Linked DNA regions of Homo sapiens. The protein of the gene in region 4 purifies or fractionates together with the protein of the main gene of each other region. This does not show direct contact. Each region holds a gene or a part of one and is shown on either strand. Other genes may lie near its edges.

The links. The genes of interacting proteins can lie anywhere in the genome.
Region 1: the proteins of SH3PXD2A (region 4) and TBC1D25 purify together in Homo sapiens (affinity purification with mass spectrometry, with the first as the bait; one large-scale study listed by BioGRID). This does not show direct contact.
Region 2: the proteins of SH3PXD2A (region 4) and MIB1 purify together in Homo sapiens (affinity purification with mass spectrometry; one large-scale study listed by BioGRID and IntAct). This does not show direct contact.
Region 3: the proteins of SH3PXD2A (region 4) and RAB3IP purify together in Homo sapiens (affinity purification with mass spectrometry, with the first as the bait; one large-scale study listed by BioGRID). This does not show direct contact.

The regions. Positions count from the first base shown.
Region 1 is NC_000023.11:48,542,183-48,547,335, reverse strand, and holds part of TBC1D25 (TBC1 domain family member 25), read right to left. Parts: intron 2,468-5,153; coding exon 2,313-2,467; intron 1-2,312. UniProt on the Homo sapiens protein: Acts as a GTPase-activating protein specific for RAB33B. Involved in the regulation of autophagosome maturation, the process in which autophagosomes fuse with endosomes and lysosomes.
Region 2 is NC_000018.10:21,746,761-21,751,913, reverse strand, and holds part of MIB1 (E3 ubiquitin-protein ligase MIB1), read right to left. Parts: intron 1-5,153. UniProt on the Homo sapiens protein: E3 ubiquitin-protein ligase that mediates ubiquitination of Delta receptors, which act as ligands of Notch proteins.
Region 3 is NC_000012.12:69,818,329-69,822,401, forward strand, and holds part of RAB3IP (rab-3A-interacting protein isoform alpha 1), read left to right. Parts: 3' UTR 1-4,073. UniProt on the Homo sapiens protein: Guanine nucleotide exchange factor (GEF) which may activate RAB8A and RAB8B. Promotes the exchange of GDP to GTP, converting inactive GDP-bound Rab proteins into their active GTP-bound form.
Region 4 is NC_000010.11:103,610,263-103,615,415, forward strand, and holds part of SH3PXD2A (SH3 and PX domain-containing protein 2A), read right to left. Parts: intron 2,929-5,153; coding exon 2,591-2,928; intron 1,369-2,590; coding exon 1,319-1,368; intron 1-1,318. UniProt on the Homo sapiens protein: Adapter protein involved in invadopodia and podosome formation, extracellular matrix degradation and invasiveness of some cancer cells. Binds matrix metalloproteinases (ADAMs), NADPH oxidases (NOXs) and phosphoinositides.

The DNA of each region.
Region 1 (5,153 bases), on a different chromosome or scaffold from region 4:
ACTCTTGTTTCTCTCTCTCCTCTGTCTCTCTTTTGCAAAGCTGCCAATTTTAACAAGTCCAAAATGTTGTAGAGTTAAATGGTTAAGAACAAGGACTCTGGAGCCAGTTCAGCCACTGCCTGAGTTCAAATCTTGCTCTTCAACTTACTGTCTGTATAACTGGGACGAGTCCTGTCACCTCTCTGAGCCTCAGTTTCCTCATCTATAATATGGGGAAAATGATTGTCCCTACTCTATAGGATTATTTTGACAATTCAGTGAAAAAATATTATGTGCACAGAATGGCCCTAAGTGTTCACTACACATTAGCTAGTTATATGTTATTATGACATCAATAAAGTGCTCGACTCATCCCAAATGGGCACATGAGTTTCCTGAGGCTGGGAACCACATCTTCCACTCCACAACTATTTAAAACAATTTTGAACCTACAATAAAGTTAAAAGAATACACTGAACACCCATACATACTTCATCTAGATCCTCTATTAACATTTTTTTGGGCCACATTTGCTTTATCTCACTCTCTCTGTATATAAACACATTATTTTTGCCAACTTATTTGCAGACATCATGACATTTTACCCCTTCATACTTAACTGTGTCTTTCCCAAGAACAAGGATATTTTCCTTCAATAGATATGATACCACTACCACACTGCTATGGTTTGAATGTGTCCTTCCAAATTCATGTGTTGCAATTTAATTACCAATGTGATCATATTAAGAGGTGGGGGCCTTTAAGAGGTGATTAAGTCCTGAGGGTAGAGCTCTCACAGATGGGATTAGGGCTCTTTTTTTATTTTTTATTTTATTTATTTTTTGAGATGGAGTCTTGCTCTGTTGCCCAGGCTGGAGTGCAGTGGTGCGATCTTGGCTCACTGCAAGCTCCGCCTCCCGGGTTCATGCCATTCTCCTGCCTCAGCCTCCCGAGTAGCTGGGACTACAGGCACCCGCCACCACGCCCGGCTATTTTTTTGTATTTTTAGTAAAGACAGGGTTTCACCGTGTTAGCCAGGGTGGTCTCGATCTCCTGACCTTGTGATCTGCCCGCCTCGGCCTCCTAAACTGCTGGGATTACAGGCGTGAGCCACCGTGCTCAGCCTCTTTTTTTTTTTTTTTTTGAGATGAAGTCTCGCTCTGTCACCCAGGCTGGAGTGCAGTGGCAAGATCTTGGCTCACTGCAACCTCTGCTTTTCGGGTTCAAGCGATTCTCATGCCTCAGCCTCCCGAGTAGCTGGGATTATAGGCATGTGCCACTACACCCGGCTAATTTTTGTATTTTTTTTAGTAGAGACAGGGTTTCACCATGTTGGCCAGGATGGTCTCGAACTCCTGACTTCAGGTGATCCGCCTGCCTCAGCCTCCCAAAGTGCTGGGACTACAGGCATGAGCCACCGTGCCCAGCGGATTTGGGCTCTTATAAAGAGGTTGAGGGTGTGGGTTCACTCTCTTCTGCTCTTCTGTCATGTGAGGATGCAGCAAGAAAGCCCTCACTAGACACACAACCTGCCAGCACCTTGATCTTGGACTTCCCAGTCTCCAAAACTGTGAGAAATAAATTTCTCTTCTTTACAAATTCCTCAGTCTGTGGTATTCTGTTATAGTAGCACAAAACGACTAAGACACACACCCAGGAAATTTAATACTGATACAATTATCTAATGTATGGTCTGTAATCAAATTTTGAGACCACGTCCTAATTTATCTGTGTGCTCGCAGGGACCAGAATAGGCAAGAGTGGAAGAACAAAGATGAGAAGAGAAAAAGTGGCTGAGAGGTCAAGGGAACAAATGAATGAGTGAGCAAGAATACAAACAAATGAATATGGGTGCAGAATGACTGAATGAATAAACACAACTAGCATTATTATAATACGCATTGTTATATTTAGGTATTATAACTGAAATACATAATGCTAAAGCTATACCGTTATACTATATTATAAATCTGCATTATATCTAATTATTACATACATTACTCGGTTATATGTTATAATAGTATAATACAATATAATTATCATTATTAGAGATAACACTTTCTGAGCCTTCATTATGCAGTCATGCACTGTTCCAGGCATTTTATATGAATTTCCCCTCACAATGGTTCTAAGATACAAGGCCTCACAATGGTTCTAAGATACAATTATCTCTTTACAAGTGAAGAAATTGTGGCCTAGTGGCTGAGCCAGGATCTATAGCTAGGATACCTTGCTACCCATCCCACCATGAGGGAGTGTACTGTGAGGGGTAGCATCACCCTATGGGGTAAAGGGGTTCCAGAGCAGTGCTCCTGGGGGCACTGAGTACTCACTGTCCTCCGAGGGCCGAATATCTACACGCAATTGCAGGTAAGGTTTGGAGGCAGTGGCAAAGGCTGTGCTGAGGTCCCAGTCAGATAGAAGTGAGAGGTAAACTTCCTGTCCTAGCCGGTCCCGGCCCAGGTAGCTGATGCCAAAGTTCTTCTTCCTGGACAGGGGATACGAGGGAGCTCTCAGGGCCCCTGGTGCCCTGGAGGCCTCAGGGACAGTTTCCAAAACAAGGAGGGTAATATAGAAGGCGTTGAAAACAACTTCCTACTATGTGCAAGGTACTGTGCCAAGGATTATGGGCAGCCTGAGATCAGGTCATTTATACCCACTTTGTTACACAAACACATACAAGCAGGTACACACCTGCTTGTATCTGGAGGTCACATTGGAAACTGGTAAAATGTTGGCCGGGTGCAGTGGCTCACGCCTATAATCTCCGCACTTTGGGAGGCCGAGGTGGGTGGATCACCTGAGGTCAGGAGTTTGAGACTAGCCTGGTCAACATGGTGAAACCCCTTCTGTACTAAAAATACAAAAAAAATTAGCTGGGTGTGGTGGCAGGTGCCTGTAATCCCAGCTACTCAGGAGGCTGAGGCAGGAGAATCGCTTGAACCTGGGAGGTGGAGGTTGCAGTGAGCCAAGATTGTGGCATTGCACTCCAACCTGGGTGACAGAGCAAGACTCCATCTCAAAAAAAAAAAAAAAAGTTGGTCCCCTCTGGGGTAGATGTGGGACAGAAGTGGGAAGAAAGCAGCCTTCTTACTACATAAAAAAAAAGCAATCTGTGTTTGTTATTTTTCACAACAAAAATGTTTATGTAAGAAAGTCTAATAACAACTAAGAATTTTTCAGCTATACTTGTGCAACTATGTAAAGAAGTTTGTTGCGTGATGCTCATCATAACCATGGAAACATCCTAAATACCCAACAATTGTGTACTGTTTGAATTTCTTACCATGTGTATGTATTCCTCCAAAATCACAACAAAATGACTATCACATCTGCCCCCAAGAGACACCACTTTTCAGCTATCAGATTGGCAAATTTTGCAGTTTTACAGTAACCAATGTTTGCGAGGGTGTGAGGGAAACAGGCATTTATGTGCTGCTGATGAGATCATAAATTCGTTTTTTTTTTTTTTTGAGACGGAGTCTCACTCTGTCGCCCAGTCTGGAGTGCAATGGTGCGATCTCGGCTCGCTGCAAGCTCCGCCTCCCGGGCCCATGCCATTCTCCTGCCTCAGCCTCCCAAGTAGCTGGGACTACAGGCGCCCACCACCACGCCTGGAGAATTTTTTGTATTTTTAGTAGAGACGGAGTTTCACCGTGTTAGCCAGGATGGTCTTGATCTCCTGACCTCGTGATCCACCTGCCTCAGCCTCCCAAAGTGCTGGGATTACAGGCATGAGCCACAGCGCCCGGCTGAGATCATAAATTGATAAAACCTGTCTGGAGAGCATTTTGGAAACACCCATTAATAGTTCAAAAAGCAGGCCAGGTGCGGTGGCTCATGCCTGTAATCCCAGCACTTTGGGAGGCTGAGGCGGGTGGATCACGAGGTCAGGAGATCGAGACGATCCTGGCCAACACGGTGAAACCCCATCTCTACTAAAAATACAAAAATTAGCCGGGCATGGTGGCGCACGCCTGTAGTACCAGCTACTCAGGAGGCCGAGGCAGGAGAATTGCTTGAACTCAGGAGGTGGAGGTTGCAATGAGACGAGATCACACCACTGCACTCCAGCCTGGACGACAGAATGAGACTGTCTCAAAAAAAAAATTTTTTTTAAAGCAAATACCCTTTTACCTGGCAATACCACTGCTAGGAATTTATCCTATGACTAGATGTTTCCAAATACAGTAGTCCCTCTTTATCTACAGGGGATACATTCCAAGACCCCCCCGAGTGGATGCCTGAAACTGCAGATAGTACCAAGCCCTATATATACTATGTTTTTTTTCATATACATACATACCTATGATAAGGTTTAATTGATAAATTAGGCACAGTAAGAGATTAACAATAATAGAACAATTATGACAATACAGATGCTTCTTGACTTATGACAGGGTTATGTACCAATAAACTCATCGTAAGTTGGAAATACTGTAAGTTGACAATGCATTTGGCTGGGCGCAGTGGCTCACCTGTAATCCCAGCACTTTGAGAGGCTGAGGCGGGCGGATTGCTTGAGCTCAGGAGTTTGAGACTGCCCTGGGCAACATGGCGAAACCCTGTCTCTACTAAAGATACAAAAAATTGGCCGGGTGCGGAGGCTCACGTGCCTGTAATCCTAACACTTTGGGAGGCCGAGGTGGGCGGATCACTTGAGATCAGGAGTTTGAGACCAGCCTGACCAACCTCATGAAAATTAGCTGAGTGTGGTGGTGCACACCTGTAATCCCAGCTACTCTGGAGGCTGAGGCATGAGAATCACTTGAACCCGGGAGGCAAAGGCTGCAATGAGCCAACATCGGACCACTGCACTCCAACCTAAGTGACAGAGTGAGACTCTGTCTCCAAAAAAAAAAAAAAGAGAAGATCAAAAAACTATCTGGGACTGGGTGCGGGGGCTTACACCTGTAATCCTAGCACTTTGGGAGGCCGAGGTGGACAGGTAACTTGAGGTCAGGTGTTCGAGACTAGCCTGACCAACATGGTGAAACCTTGTCTCTAATAAAAATACAAAAATTAGCAGGCGTGGTGGTGCGTGCCTGTAATCCCAGCTACTTGGGAGGCTGAGGCAGGAGAATCACTTGAACCCGGGAAGCGGAGGTTGCAGTGAGCTGAGACTGCGCCACTGCACTGCAGCCCGGGGGACAAGAGCAAAACTCCGTCTCAAA
Region 2 (5,153 bases), on a different chromosome or scaffold from region 4:
CCACAGCATGGACAAGCATAGGACTTCTCATATCCAACATTAAATGCTAGAACAAGGAGGCAGTTCTGACAGAAAAATATTTTGAATCTAGAATTGCATATTCAACCAAATATCAGTCAGGTTTAGGGGTGAGAGAGACAGTGTGGCAAAATAAAGCAATTTTCAGGCCTGCAAGGACTCAAACTACTAGAAAGAAAGAAAAGAAGGGAAGAAAAGGGAAGAAAGAAAGGAAGGGGAAAGGATTTTTCCCCCAATAAAATGAGAAGGGAATGACATGAGATATAGTATAAGCAGCAGTAATAAGAAAGAACTACAATTTTAAATCCAATTAATTATTAATAATATAACTGTGAGCTGGGTGTGGCAGGTCACGCCTGTAATCCCAGCACTTTGGGAGGCAGAGGTGGATGATCACTTGAGGTCAGGAGCTCCAGAGACCAGCCTGGCCAACATGGTGAAACCCCATCTCTACTAAAAATACAAAAATTTGCTGGGCATGGTGATGCACACCTGTAGTTACAGCTACTTGCAGGGTTGAGGCAGGAGAATCACTTGGCTGCAGTGAGCCAAGATCGTGCCACTGCACCCCAGCCTGGGCAACAGAGACTATGTCTCAAAATAAATAAATAAATAAAATAATAATAATAACTGTGACGTTTAATGCAATTTTATGAGCCAATCTTTTTCTTTTCTTTTTTTTTCCCCTCTGTTTGAGACTGGGTCTCATTCTGTCACCCAGGCTGGAGTGCAGTAACATGATCTCAGCTCACTGCAACCTCTGCCTCCCAGGCTCAACTGATCCTCCTGCCTCAGCCTCACCAACAAATAGCTGGGGCTACAGGCACACACCACCATGGTGGGCTAATTTTTATATTTTTTTGTAGAGATGGGGTTTTGCCATGTTGTCCAGGCTGGTCTCAAATCCCTGGGCTCAAGCAACCTGCCTGCCTCAGCCTCCCAAAGTGCTAGGATTACAGGCGTCAGCCACTGTGCCCAGCTGAGCAAATCTTACAACATAAAAAGAAGCATATATTTACAGGAGTATGGTTGGGGAGAAAGGACAATGCAAACAAAAATTTGGGACTAATTTTCCTGAAAATTTACATAAAACCAACACAATGAAAAAGGTAAGAGGTGTGGGGCAGGAGATGGCCGGGCGCAGTGGCTCACGCCTGTAATCGCAGGACTTTGGGAGGCTGAGGCGGGTGGATCACCTGAGGTCAGGAGTTCCAGACCAGTCTGGCCAACATGGTGAAACCCCATCTCTACTAAAAATACAAAAAATTAGGCCGAGCGTGGTGGCTTACGCCTGTAATCCCAGCACTTTGGGAGGCCGAGGCGGGCGGATCACAAGATCAGGAGATGGAGACCATCATGGCTAACACGGTGAAACCCCGTCTCTACTAAAAATATGAAAAGTTAGCGGGGCATGGTGGCATGCGCCTGTAATCCCAGCTACTCAGGAGGCTGAGGCAGCAGAATGGCATGAACCCGAGAGGCGGAGCTTGCAGTGAACTGAGATCTTGCCACTGCACTCTAGCCTGGACGACAGAGCGAGACTCCGTCTCAAAAAAAATAAAAATAAAATACAAAAATTAGCTGGACATGGTGGCACCCGCCTGTAATCCCAGCTACTCAGGAGGCTGAGGTAGGAGAATCGCTTGCACCCAGTAGGAGAATTGCTTGCACCCAGGAGGTAGAGGTTGCAGTGAGCTGAGATCATGCCATTGCACTCCAGCCTGGGCAACAGAGTGAGACTCCACCTCAAAAAAATAAAGAAAGAAGTATGGGCAGGAGTAATTAAAGAGACTGTTTAGTTTTTCTACATGCAAAAAAAACCTAATTTTTCAATCTGTTTGTTAAATATTAAAAGGTAATAATTAGCAGAGCAGAAAAAAAGGTGATAAAATTTCTAACTCACTGGTTAAAAAAAAAAATACAAGAAAACTGGAAAGTTAAAAAGTAAGGTAGCAGCCAGGTGTGATGGCTCATGCCTGTAATCCCAGCACTTTGGAAAGCTGAGGTGGGTGGATCACCTGAGGTCGGGAGTTCGAGACCAGCCTGACCAACATGGGGAAACACGGTCTCTACTGAAAATACAAAAAATTAGCCGGGAATGGTGGGGCATGCCTGTAATCTCAGCTACTTGGGAGGCTGAGGCAGGAGAACCACTTGAACCTGGGAGGCAGAGGTTTTGATGAGCCAAGATCGCGCCATTGTACTCCAGCCTGGGCAATAAAAGGAAAACTCCATTTCAAAAAAAAAAAAAAAAGAGTAAGGTAGCAGTAATTAGAAAAAATGTATCAGTTGTCACAATACATATGAACAAGTTAAATTCCTCTATTAAAAGACAAATGTTCTCAAAGTCAGTGAGGACAATATTTAGCCATGTCATTTATAACAGAAATTCCTGTAACAAATTAATTTAAAAGCTAAAAATTAGTACACAAAGGTATGTATACACAAAGATACTTGTTGCAGTGTTGTTTAAAATGACAAAAAAGAAAACACTATAAATGTCTATCAAAAGAATAGTTAAGTAATATATTTTTTAACTATTAAATACTATGTACCGACCAAAAAGAATAAGACAGATTCTTATGTGCTAACACTGCAAGATGTCCAAGACAATATTCATTTAAAAAGAAAGCTGAAGAACAGTACATATGGCATACCTATATGGAAATACATATATATTTCTCTCTAAGTAGTTAAGACATAAATGTCACCTTATTTTACCATATAGGAAGTACATATTAGATTATTTATAAGGAATACAGAAAACACACGTCAAGTGGAAAAAAAAGAATGAAACAAACTATGTATACAGTAAAACCTTAGCTGTGCAAAAAAGACACACTAGAAAGAAACAAGCAGGGCTCAGTGGCTCATGCCTGTAATCCAGGCAATCTGGGATGCTGAGGTTGAAGGATCACTTGAGGCCAAGAGTTTGAGACCAGCCTGGGTGATACAGCAAGACCTCAACTCTAAGAAAAATAAAAAATAAAAAAAAATTAGCCAGGCTTGGTGGTGTGCACCTATAGTCCTAGCTACTCGGGAGGCTGAGGTAGGCGGATCACCTGAGCCCAAGAATTCGAGGTTGCAATGAGCTATAATCACACCACTGCTCTCCAGCCTGGGCAACAGAGTGAAACTCTTTAAAAAAAAAAAAAAAAAAAAAAAGGCTGGGCATGATGGCTCACAGCTGTAATCCCAGCACTTTGGGAGGCCAAGGCAGATGGATCACTTGACCTCACAAGTTCAAGACCAACCTGGGCAACACGGCAGGACCCTATCTCTACAAAAAAATACACAAATTAGCTGTGCATGGTGGTGCGCACCTGTAGTCCCAGCTACTCAAAAGGCTGAGGTGGGAAGATGGCTTGAGCCCAGGAGGCAGAGGTTGCAGTGAGCCAAGACTGCACCACTGCACTCTGGCCTGGGGGACAAGAGTGAAACTCCAGAAAGAAAGAAGAGAAAGGGAGAAGGGGGGAAAGAGGGAGAGAGGGAGAGAGGGAGGGGGGAGAGAGGGAGGGGGGAGAGAGGGAGGGAGGGAGGGAGAGAGGAAGAAAAGCAAAGCAAAGCAAAAAAAGAATGGTTTTGAAAAGAGCACTGAACAATTTACAACAGGATGTATCACAAAGTTTCATTTCTAAATTGGTTTACATTTCATTATCAATTTTCCCACAAGCAAAGTGTTACAGGTGGTCATGTTTCTGAACCACTATACTATAAAAGAAAAAGAGAATGATACTGAGGAAAAGCAATCAACTGGCATTCATCCCTACTATCTGCCACTCACCAGCTTTGTGACTGGACAAATTTCTTAATCTCTCTGAATCTGAGTTTCCTTTTATCTTGTTTTAGGATAATATCTATCTAATCTCTGATCCAATGAGTCAAAAGCTCTTTGAAAAGTGTGTCTGATTCAGAAAATACTCATCCAGAGACATGGTTCTGCTAGAAAATGGAGATACAAGAATAACACAGACCCTTTCCCTTAAACTAATAATCTAGTGCAAAAGACAATTACAACACAGCATACCCTGCTTTAACAGATGAAAGCACACATGTGGGGATATCACACTAGCTAGCAATTATAGAGGGTGGAGGAGAGACCCTGGTGGGTGGCTACCTGGGAACACATTCAAAAAGAAATAGCTAATCTAATCAGAGGGACAGGCTGGAAAGTATAGGATCGAAAATACACATTAAGATAGCATTACACTTACAAAAAGTACATATATTAGAAAGGTGTTACATGCTCCTTTATTTCAGTTGTACACACTTCTCTTCTCCCCAACTAATAATGCCAATCTAGTTTTAAAGACATGTATTACCAACAAACAATCAAGGCTTGGAATCTGTTGAAAGGAAAAGGAGAAAACAGAAACGCAGGGCATCTCAAGTAGACAAATAGTCACTTAGTACTCTGCTATTCAAAGTGTGTCCTTGAGCCTGCAGTATCTGCATCACCTATGAGCTTATTAGAAATACTCTCGCAGAATCCCAAACTTACTGAACCAGAATCTGCATTTTAAAAGGTCCCCAGGTGATCTGTGTGCTTTAAGTTTGAGAAGTACTGACACAGGGGTCTACTAGTTGATTTCTTGAAGTCCTCAGCTCAACCAAGCTGCAATCTACAGGGACTATTAAGAACTAGATAGACTTTCATAATTTACAACATTGTTTTAGTGGAGGAAATAAAATAAGAAAGACATTTTACAGAAGCCTTTAAAATAGGTAGGATCTATGAGGAAATAAAGTTTTCCTTGCAGATGTCATTAATAAAAAACATTTTGTGATATTTCATCCTTTCCAGGTGTGGCATCCTGCTCCCCAAACATTGTTCCCTCAAATCCTGTTTTTTCCTACGGCTTTGTGTCCTGACAAATACCCCTTTCTACTGTGGTTCTAGAAACAGATCAGAATAGGGGACTCTATTCTGATAAAGAAAAGCTGAGGATTATTAATTCATTTCATTTTTTTAATCCAGGGTCAGCCCTTTTAAACCTTCAACTGAATACAAAACATCTGAGAAGTTTTTCCACGTATGACTGGAGAGGCATTCTTTGCTAGCGGTCAAAGACAAGGACAAAGAACTACCCCCAAAACAGTTTGAATGAACTATGACCAGAAGCTGGTTTTGAATA
Region 3 (4,073 bases), on a different chromosome or scaffold from region 4:
GTCCCAGCTACTTGGGAAGCTGAGGTGGAAGGATTGCTTAAGCCCAGGAGGTTGAGGCTGCAGTGAATCATGATTGTGCCACTGCACTCTTACCTTGGGTGACAGAGTAAGATCATACCTTAAAAAAAAAAAAAAAGTATACCCATGGGTCAGCAATTTCACTTTTCAGTATATACTTGAGAAATGCTTGCACAGGTCCCCCAGATCACACATATAAGAATGTTCTGGAATAAATTAAAATGTCTATTTTTAGGAAGGTGTAATGTGTTCACAGAATGGGTGATTATTACATGGCAGCAAAATGAATGAATACCAGCTACTTGCAGCACAATAACTCAGAATGAAAAAGCAATTCTGAGAAAACTATATGTGACATGATACTTTTCTTATAAAAGTCAAGAACAACTAAAACTGAACAGCTGTTTAGGCATTGACATATGTGACAAAACTTTTAAAAAGTAATAAAGTTCAAGATAGTGGTTACCTCTGGAGAGGTAGAGGAGGAGCAAATCTATGAGTAAGTCACTGGTAATGTTTTAGTCCCTGGGTTAGGTGGTGGGTTTTGGGGTGGTTCATTTGTCATTAAAAGTAAGTACATGAGCTGGGTGTAGTGGTGCGTGCTTATAGTCCCAGCTACTTGGGAGTCTGAGATAGGAAGATCCTTGAGGCCAGTTCAAGGCTATAGTGTGCTATGATTTCACCTGTGAATAGCTACTATATTCCAACCTGGGCAACGTAGACCTTGCCCCCCTTTAAAAAAATTCAAAAACAAAATAAATGCATGGACAAATGAATAAGAGAGTTATGCATGGAACATCGGTGGTGTATTATGAATCAAGCATTATTACTAGCTCAGTTATATGTGCCTTCATTCCAAAACAAAAAATAAAAGGTAAGAAAATTGTTGAATTGCATTTGAGAGAGAGGAAAGGAAAGAATTCAGGTCTGAATCTTAGGCTTTTGGCTTGAGCTATTGCAGTTTATTGAGATGGGGAAATACATGGTGGGGAAAGTTTGGGTATGTGCATAACAGAGACAGAAATTCAGTGTTTGACAGATCAAGTGTGAGGTGCCCACTGAGCATCAAAGTGGATATGTTAAGCAGGTATTGGATGTACAAATCTAAATTCAGTAAGGTCAGTCCAGGAGAAAATTTGGGGAGTAGTTAGCCATGGGATCAGATGGGCGCTTTAGGGACACTTTGGAGATGAAGTACAGCACTGAGCCCTGAGTTCCTGTGACAGAGAAGCAGCCTGCAAAGACGAAAGGAGGAGCTGTTAGGAAGAGCAAGGCAACAGAAAAGGAAGAACCAGCATGCTGATTATGTTCAGGAGAGTGTTTCTACGCTGAATTTAATTGCCAAGATTACCAATTCTAAAGAAGAGGAGGACTCTTGGACAAGTTTTTAGAAGTTGGTTTGGAGCTGGGGTGAGAGCCTGGCCTAATGGAGACAGCTCTGGATTGGGAGTCACTTAGACCTACATTCTGGTCTAGGTTTGGCTCCCAAAAACTGGGAAGGTTAGTTAGGTGGCCACTCCTCTCTCTTCATGGTCTCTCTCAGCTTGAAGACAATTTACAGTCTTTGACTAAGCATCCACACTGGAAGAACAAGATTTGGTTTCTGAACATTGGGTCTTAGTCCTTAAAATAACTTGCAACCTGTTACGTCTTCACTTACTCCCATCGCCACCACAAGAATCCTGTGTGTTTTTGTTTTGTGCATCCAGTCTAAAACGGGTCTGCTTTTATTCATAGGCTTTTGTTTTCAGTGGTTTTTGTTGTTGCATTTTTCCCTAGATAAAATGTTTTTTCTATAAGACACTGCTTAAAAGAGTCCAATGCAGTATGAATTTGTATTTGTGTTTAACTTTTGTGCTTAACAGATCTGCCATGGCTGAACTCTCAGTTGCTTAAGCAAAATTCTGGGGCTTATTCTAGGTTCCTTTATTTGTCATTGTCACTCCCATTCCAGTTATCAGCAAATTCCATCAGCTGTCTCCGAGACATCTTAAATCTGTCTACCTCCCTCCATGTCCACTGCTACCACTCTGCCCAAGCTATTATCATCTTTCACCTGAACTCCTGCACTAATGTCTGCTGTCCTTGCATCCACTCCTGCCCTCCTACAATCACTGACGGCAGCCGCAGGGATCTTTATAAAACGAAAATCAGATAATGTCACTTCCCTGCTTAAAGCCCTTTGAGTGGCTTCCCATTGCACTTAGAAAAAAAAAAAAAAAAAAAAACTGGCCAGGTGCGATGGCTCATGCCTGTAATCCCAGCACTTTGGGAGGCCGAGGCGGGCGGATCCCCTGAGGTTGGTAGTTCGAGACCTGCTTGGCCAACATGGAGAAACCCTGTCTCTACTAAAAACACAAAATTAGTCAGGTGTGATGGCGCATGCCTGTAATCCCAGCTACTTGGGAGGCTGAGTCAGGAGAAACGCTCGAACCCAGGAGGCAGAGGTTGTGGTGAGTTGACATCACGCCATTGCACTCCAGCCTGGGCAACAAGAGTGAAACTCCGTCTGAAAAAAAAAAAAAAAAACCCAAACTCAATAGAAAATCAAGTTTTCATAGTGGTAGTTGTTAACAGAGAAATAACAATGAAAGCTTTAAAAAACTCCATGAAAATTTGCAAAACTTAAAAAAAAAATGTAGAAGAGGACTAAACTTGATAAAATATTAAAAGAATTGAAACCCTTCCTAAAGGCAGCTTCTCAAGGGAGCACAAGTTCACACACAGTTTACTTTTGGAGGAACGTCTGAGGTCATGAGGACTAGATTCTAGAGCTACAGGTCTCAGGGACAGTCTCGAGGGATACAGGGCCCCCATCACCACATCCCCAGATTTAACCGCAGCAGCTCAGCTTTTATCTGTATCTGTTGGAGCTCTCTAGGAAATGTCAATACCAAAGCAAACCCAAATCACAACTAGATTAGATTACTATTCAAGAGAATGATTCTCTACCGAAACTCTGCAAAATGGGGATATCAAGAGAGTTGGAAAATGTAAGACGTAAAGACCATAATCAGGAAAATACGCATCATATTTGTTATTCACTGAGAGGGAGGAATTTCCACTTAAATCCTATTTCCAGCAGCTGGATTGTGCTCTCAGTGGAGTGCTCTGGATTCTGATTAATAGAGATTTTCTAGTCCTCCCAGCAACTTCCTTCTCAATTCTCTTCACTTTCCGCAGATCTCGGCACCAGGGTTGCATCTTGTGGGCTCCATTGTGTTTTCACACAATGTGCTATTTGTCCTTCACAGTGTTTTGGTTTATTTTTCTGTTTGTCCATCTTGTTTTTGAACAATTGCCAGCATTTAAAAATGAGGAAATCTAAAATCTGCATTTCAAGCTGCTCTTTTTTAAAATGTGCCGTTTCGACAACACTGAGCCCACAGTCTTGAATGACAACACTTGGGTGGAGCTGAGTGACTCCACCTGTCGGGTGGCTACACCCTTGCTCAGGGTATGCACTCCATGGTTTGCTCTATGGCCCACCATCCTGGATTGTCTCCCTGACACCAAGGCTAAGGGACCCACTTTACTCACTTATCTGCTGGGCCTTGGAAGTATTTCAGTTCGGAACCCCAATTCTAACCTTAGCTTCTCAGGCCATTAAATGAAATCTCATTTCTATGATGCTTCCTGTCACATCACTGTGCTGCTGAGAACATGAAGTCTGTGGGTGAATTGGTGGACGGGATCCAGAATCATTACTTGGCAGTGGATTATAGTGTGATGACTCATTTCCGGTGGTCTCCAGGAGACTTGGCTGGGAGCTTCTCTTGGAGTCTAGGGTTAGCCAGAGGCTACATGTTTTAGGCATCTTAATTCATATTTTATCTAAAGGCATATAAATCCTTAAAAAAAATCATTTGACTTCATCCTTGCTCCCTACATCCAGCCAGTAACCATTGCTTTGTTTTACATCGCGTGCTTCAGGCTTTACTACAGCCTACCTGGATTTTGCAGTAGCTTCTTAAACTGCTTAAACTTTGGATATTGCCCCAGCCAACACATTCTGCCACAGAGATCTCTCTGAGTTAAATGGGATTGTATCATGC
Region 4 (5,153 bases):
CCCAGGCCACATCTCTGGCCAGGTGGGATGCAGCTGGGCCTAACTGGAAACAGCAGCCCTGCCTCAGCAATCCCCACATTTGGTAAGTGTGGAAGGAATTACCCCATTCTTGCCAAAATCAAGTCTGCCTGAAAATAATTAGCCGTGGCTAGGAGAGATGGTTGAGAGGGAGAATTCAGTGTTTGGGTGTGTAAAACTCAGGAGGAAAAAGAGAAACTCCACTGGGGTCCATGGCCAAGGCAAGGAAGGTCTCATCTCCAGGGATGAAATCTTTAAAAACCATATTTTTATGGAGGGCCTACTCTTCCATAGACTGGTGCCATCTCCCTTAGCCAGGGCTGATGTCACTGACCACAGTAACTCTTGTTGCTAAGCCCAGATGTGACTTCAGAATCCTCCTTAACCCAGTGCACCAGGTAGTATTACCAAGCAGGCAAGAGCTGACATAGGAAATGGAAACCTGTTTGCTAGCCCCCCACATAAATCATCTCATTTCATCCTTACAACAGCCCTAAGAGATGGCTAGTACTGTCCCGTCTGATAAATAAGGGCACTGAAGCTTGTAGAGGGCAACTGGCTTACCTACAGTCTCTCCGCCTCTAAGTGTCAGAAGTGGAATCCGAATCCATGCCTGGCACTTGAAGACACACTCTTTCCACTACATCCCACTGCGCTTACTAACAGTTCTTTGTTCCAAGGCTCTCAGCCTGCCACCAGCATCGCAGGCACCCCAAGCCCTGGCCCCTGATGCGTATCTACCTGCCCGAGGGTCTGGACACCAGGAAACCCCACCCACATGAACCAGGGACCCTGGCAGTGTTAACCTCTTAAAGCTGGGGCGTGAGCCACTCCTTGCAACTCACACTCCTCCCTGGAAGACGTTCACTGATCTGCCCTCTGCCCTCCCAGACTCTGCCATCCACCACCTCCACTGGGCATTCCTGACCAGGGAAAGCTGAAAGGCTTCCAGGCTAGCATGGACAGGAGCCCCATTTCCAGCCTCTGGCAATGCCCTGGCTGGACACTTTTGCCGGGCAGTCTAAATGTTTATGTCTGCCAATGCAGTGGCTGGGATGGATTTATTTAGCTTTGGAGTGCAGTGTGTTTCCGATTATAAACTGTCCAGCCAGGCCTCCAGGAAGGCTGGGATCTGCAGGCTTCCCTCCCTGCCCCTAGCCCCACAAAACTAGAAGCCCCAGCAGGGCTCTGGAAAACCCCTGGATCAAGAGGCTCTGCCGCAAGATAGCCAATTGATCGGGTGGCTATAGCGCATTCACAGAAAAGGAAGGAAAGGGGAGAAGAAATTCAGTACACATACCAGGCTGGATTCTCTGCGTGGTGGAGGTCTTGTCCGTAGGTTCGGGGAGCCTAGAGGAAGAGACATGGCTTCAGAAATCCTAGTCAGACGATGGGCAACAGTACCCATACCTGCCTTCCCTAGGTGAAACTAACTCCTGATCCTTCAAGTTCATGCTTTAGCTCAGCCTTTATGAAGGACTTGACACTCTAAGTCACTATGGGCACTGTGGTTGGGCTTTTTCAAGGGGAAACTATAGACCTTTACCTTGGCTGTGCTTCCAGGGGATCTATGAACACTCTAAAATTATGTGCACTTTTCAAAATGTGCAGCTATGTGGGCATTTTTCAGGGTAACGGGTGTATAGATTTATCAGGTTTTCAAAGTTAGGAGCAGAGACCATGTCTGTTTTTTGCTTACTATTAAATCCATAGAAGCTAGCATAATGCCAGGCAAGAGGAGGTGCCCAATAACTGTTTCCCAGCTGGTTCCCTAAAAGATTTCAGGCACGAGAGCTAACTTAACCCAGTGGAGCTAAACTAAAGAAACAGCTTTCCTCCAGATTTTAAGAATGGCTGGACACAAACAAAAGCTAGGTTCCTATAACATGGAAGTTTTAAGCCTCAACAAAAGGCATTATTGGGCCAGAGATGGAGGGTGCCAGACTGCCTGGAGTCTCCTGTAGAAATGAAGATGATTCTTGAAGAACGCCCTGTTGAAACTGCCTGTGTAGAGTGGTAAAGCCTTAGCTCCCAAGTCTCTTAGGTTTCCAGTAACGAGTGGAAAGTCATAGGGAAGGAGCTGCTAAGGCCCAGAAAGACGTTTCTCTACAGACTGTCACTCCATAGGGCAGCCCTGCATATAGCACCCACATTCAACAGCCCAGGGAAATGTGTTTTTTTGATTTTTTAAAAGTCAGCTACACATCATCTATCTTGATTTATAAAGCCTTTACCATAAGGAAAAGAAAACATTTCTTGCTCTTGGAACGCGTGTATCTGCAGAGTGACCATTGCTGGCTCTCCACTAGAGGAGGGAACGCTACCACCCACATCCTCATGTGATCTAGCTTCCGTGGAGCAGCTGGGAGCAGTTGAGTCATCATACTCCTCTGCCTTCTCCACTCCTGTGATGAGCATGACACAAGTTGACAGAGTGAGGGTCAAAGGCCAGTCTGTAGCCCAGGAGGAAAACGCCATGGGGGTCCTGTGCACCCCCCTGGCTTTCACGGCACCCATGCCCATTCTCTAAGGAGCTTTGCAGTGAGGACCTAGAGGTCAGCGAGGCTCTTACTGATCTGGGCCCGCTGAGGGGCAATCCTGGCCACAGCTGGAGAGCCCTGGGCCAGCCTGGAGACAGTCCTGTCAGGAACGCCCACGGCACTGCCATTGGAGGCATTGCAGAGGATGGGCAGGCTGATCTCCTTCTTGGCAATGGGGGCCTCATGGCCCTCGCCTTCGGCTGGTGGAGTTTCCTTGTCCCCAGACGCCTTCTTGTTCAGCAGGTTGCTGATCTCCATGATGTTCCCAATGATCTCCACTGGGCCGGCCAGGTTCTTCTTCCGGGTTGGCAGGTCATCCTTGGCCTTCTTCAGGTAGGATGCTGGCGCCCAGCCCTCTTTGCCCAGGTATCTGTGGGGAGGAGCAGGATGTGCTATCATTAGAGCACTCTGACCTCACAGCCCACTCCCAGGCCCTAGGATCCATCTGGCCTTGCCCAGTGGAGCCTTCCCTACCATGTTCTGCAAGGCTTGGCAATCCCACTACTCTGGAGAGAAATGGCACCGAGGGTAGATGGAAAAGACACCCAGAACACCAATTCCCACTGCCCCCCCACCATGCTCCTTTTTCTTTGCCTGATCCCTCTTGGGGTGGGCTCTCATGTTCTGCAAAGTCAGGCAAATGTGGGAGCTTGGGATCAGATTTATCAACTTTTGGGTTGCCCAAAGGAGGACTTCATAATGGCCTGCTACTTCCCAGTCAGTTGAGGATAATTAGAGAGATAAGAAGAAGGTGTGGATGTGGTATGTAGAGGTAAATGGCCTGTAGGAAGGGGAGGTATTATTAGAGAGGGAATTGACTCCAGAAGGTGAGAGTCAGGCAGTCTGAGTTCTAGTCTGTGGTACCTTGCACAAGTCCCTTCCCTGGAGCTCAGTTTGTGTCTCTTTTGCAAGATGCAGGGATAGAGTCGCTGCTAAAAATGTACCCAGAAGGACAGACATGTTGAGATCAACTAAGCTGTCTCCAACATCTTAGCTGGAATGGCTCCTCCATGCCAGATGACTGAATGGGACAGCTGTGGTGCCACTGCAGGGAGAGTAGGTGGATCCTCTATAGACTGTCACAGACCAAGTTCACAAACCAGGCTAAATTTACTGTAGTGGAACAAAGATGCATTATTCAATAAGTGATTTGGGGCTGGGCGAGGTGGCTTACACCTGTCATTACAGCACTTTGGGAAGCTGAGGCAGGAGGATCGTTTAAGGCCAGCCTGGGCTACATAGCAAGATCTCATCTCTACCAAAAAAAAATTTTTTTTTTTTTTAATTAGCTGGGTGTGATGGTGCATACCTGTAGTCCCAGGTGCTTGGGAGGCTGAGGTGGGAGGATTGCTTGAGCCCAGAAGTTTGAAGCTGCAGTGAGCTATGATCATACCACTGCACTCCACTCTGGGAGACAGAGTGAGACCCTGCCTCCAAAAATGTAAAAAGTGATTTGGGGAAAACTGATGACCCAGTTAGGAAAAACAAGTAAGACAGACACTGGCTTTATACCATATAGCAGAATTAACAAATAGAAGATTGACATAATGTTGGGGGTTGAGAAAATCTAAGTGGGGCTCCAAAAGCAGAAACCATAAGTGAAAAGACAAAAGCACATGACTAGATAAAACTAAAACCAAAGCAAAACAAAAACAAAACAAAACAAAAGGAAACAAAACCAAAAGCTCATAAACAAAGGCAAAAGGCAAATGATAGGGCTGACTTAATTTCTGGTGATTCGATGACTTCTGAAAACAAGCTTTTCCTTTTTTCCTCGTGGTGTTGAGTTTTCACCCAAACCCATGGGGACTTCACTTCCTGGTCCAGTAGTCGCTGGCCAGTGCCCCCAAGTCTGGGTTGCAATGTCCCCATCTGCTCCCTGGACACATCTGGCTCTTTGGAATGGCTCCTCCACACCAGATGTCTGAACACCTCCCCCCCCGCCCCGCCCACCGTCTTCCTGATCTGACCTTGTTCTTGGGCGCTCATTAGGTGGGAGAAAAGGAATATGAAAGCTGAAGTTCCTATCAACATGTCTGAGCTTTGCGAGAAAGCTCAGGTAGGAGGTGGCTCCTTACGTTCTGTCACAGAAACATGCAGGCAGGCTGAGCCAAGCTCGCCTCCCCAGGGATTGGGAGGCAGAGGTGAGTTAACACGTGGGTGGGAGTCAGGGGCCTGTCTTTGGCTCCCTGATGCAATGGGTGCAAACAGAAGCACAGAATTTTAAGGGTGGATGGAAGCAACGAGTAAAAATACCTAATCTTATGTGAGCCAACAACTACGGCTCAGAAAAGCAAGGGGGTCACACAGTGAGCGCTTAGCAGCATCTGGCCCAGAGCCTGGTGCTCTTGCATCTCAGAGAAAAGACAAAGATGAGCCCACTGGCCCTCACTGACGATTTTTCTACATGGACACTGTAGAGCTATGGGGAGAGGGGGCTCATGGAGGTGACGGTCAGGCCTGCTTAGGGCCCCGAGTGCTGTATTTGTGTTCCTTCAGCACTACATGGGTAAAATTAAGATTCCAGGAGGAGAAACGCAAGGGAATCAGGAGTGCCTGTGTGTGTCTGGGTCCAGCTCTGCTCACATCTGCTTT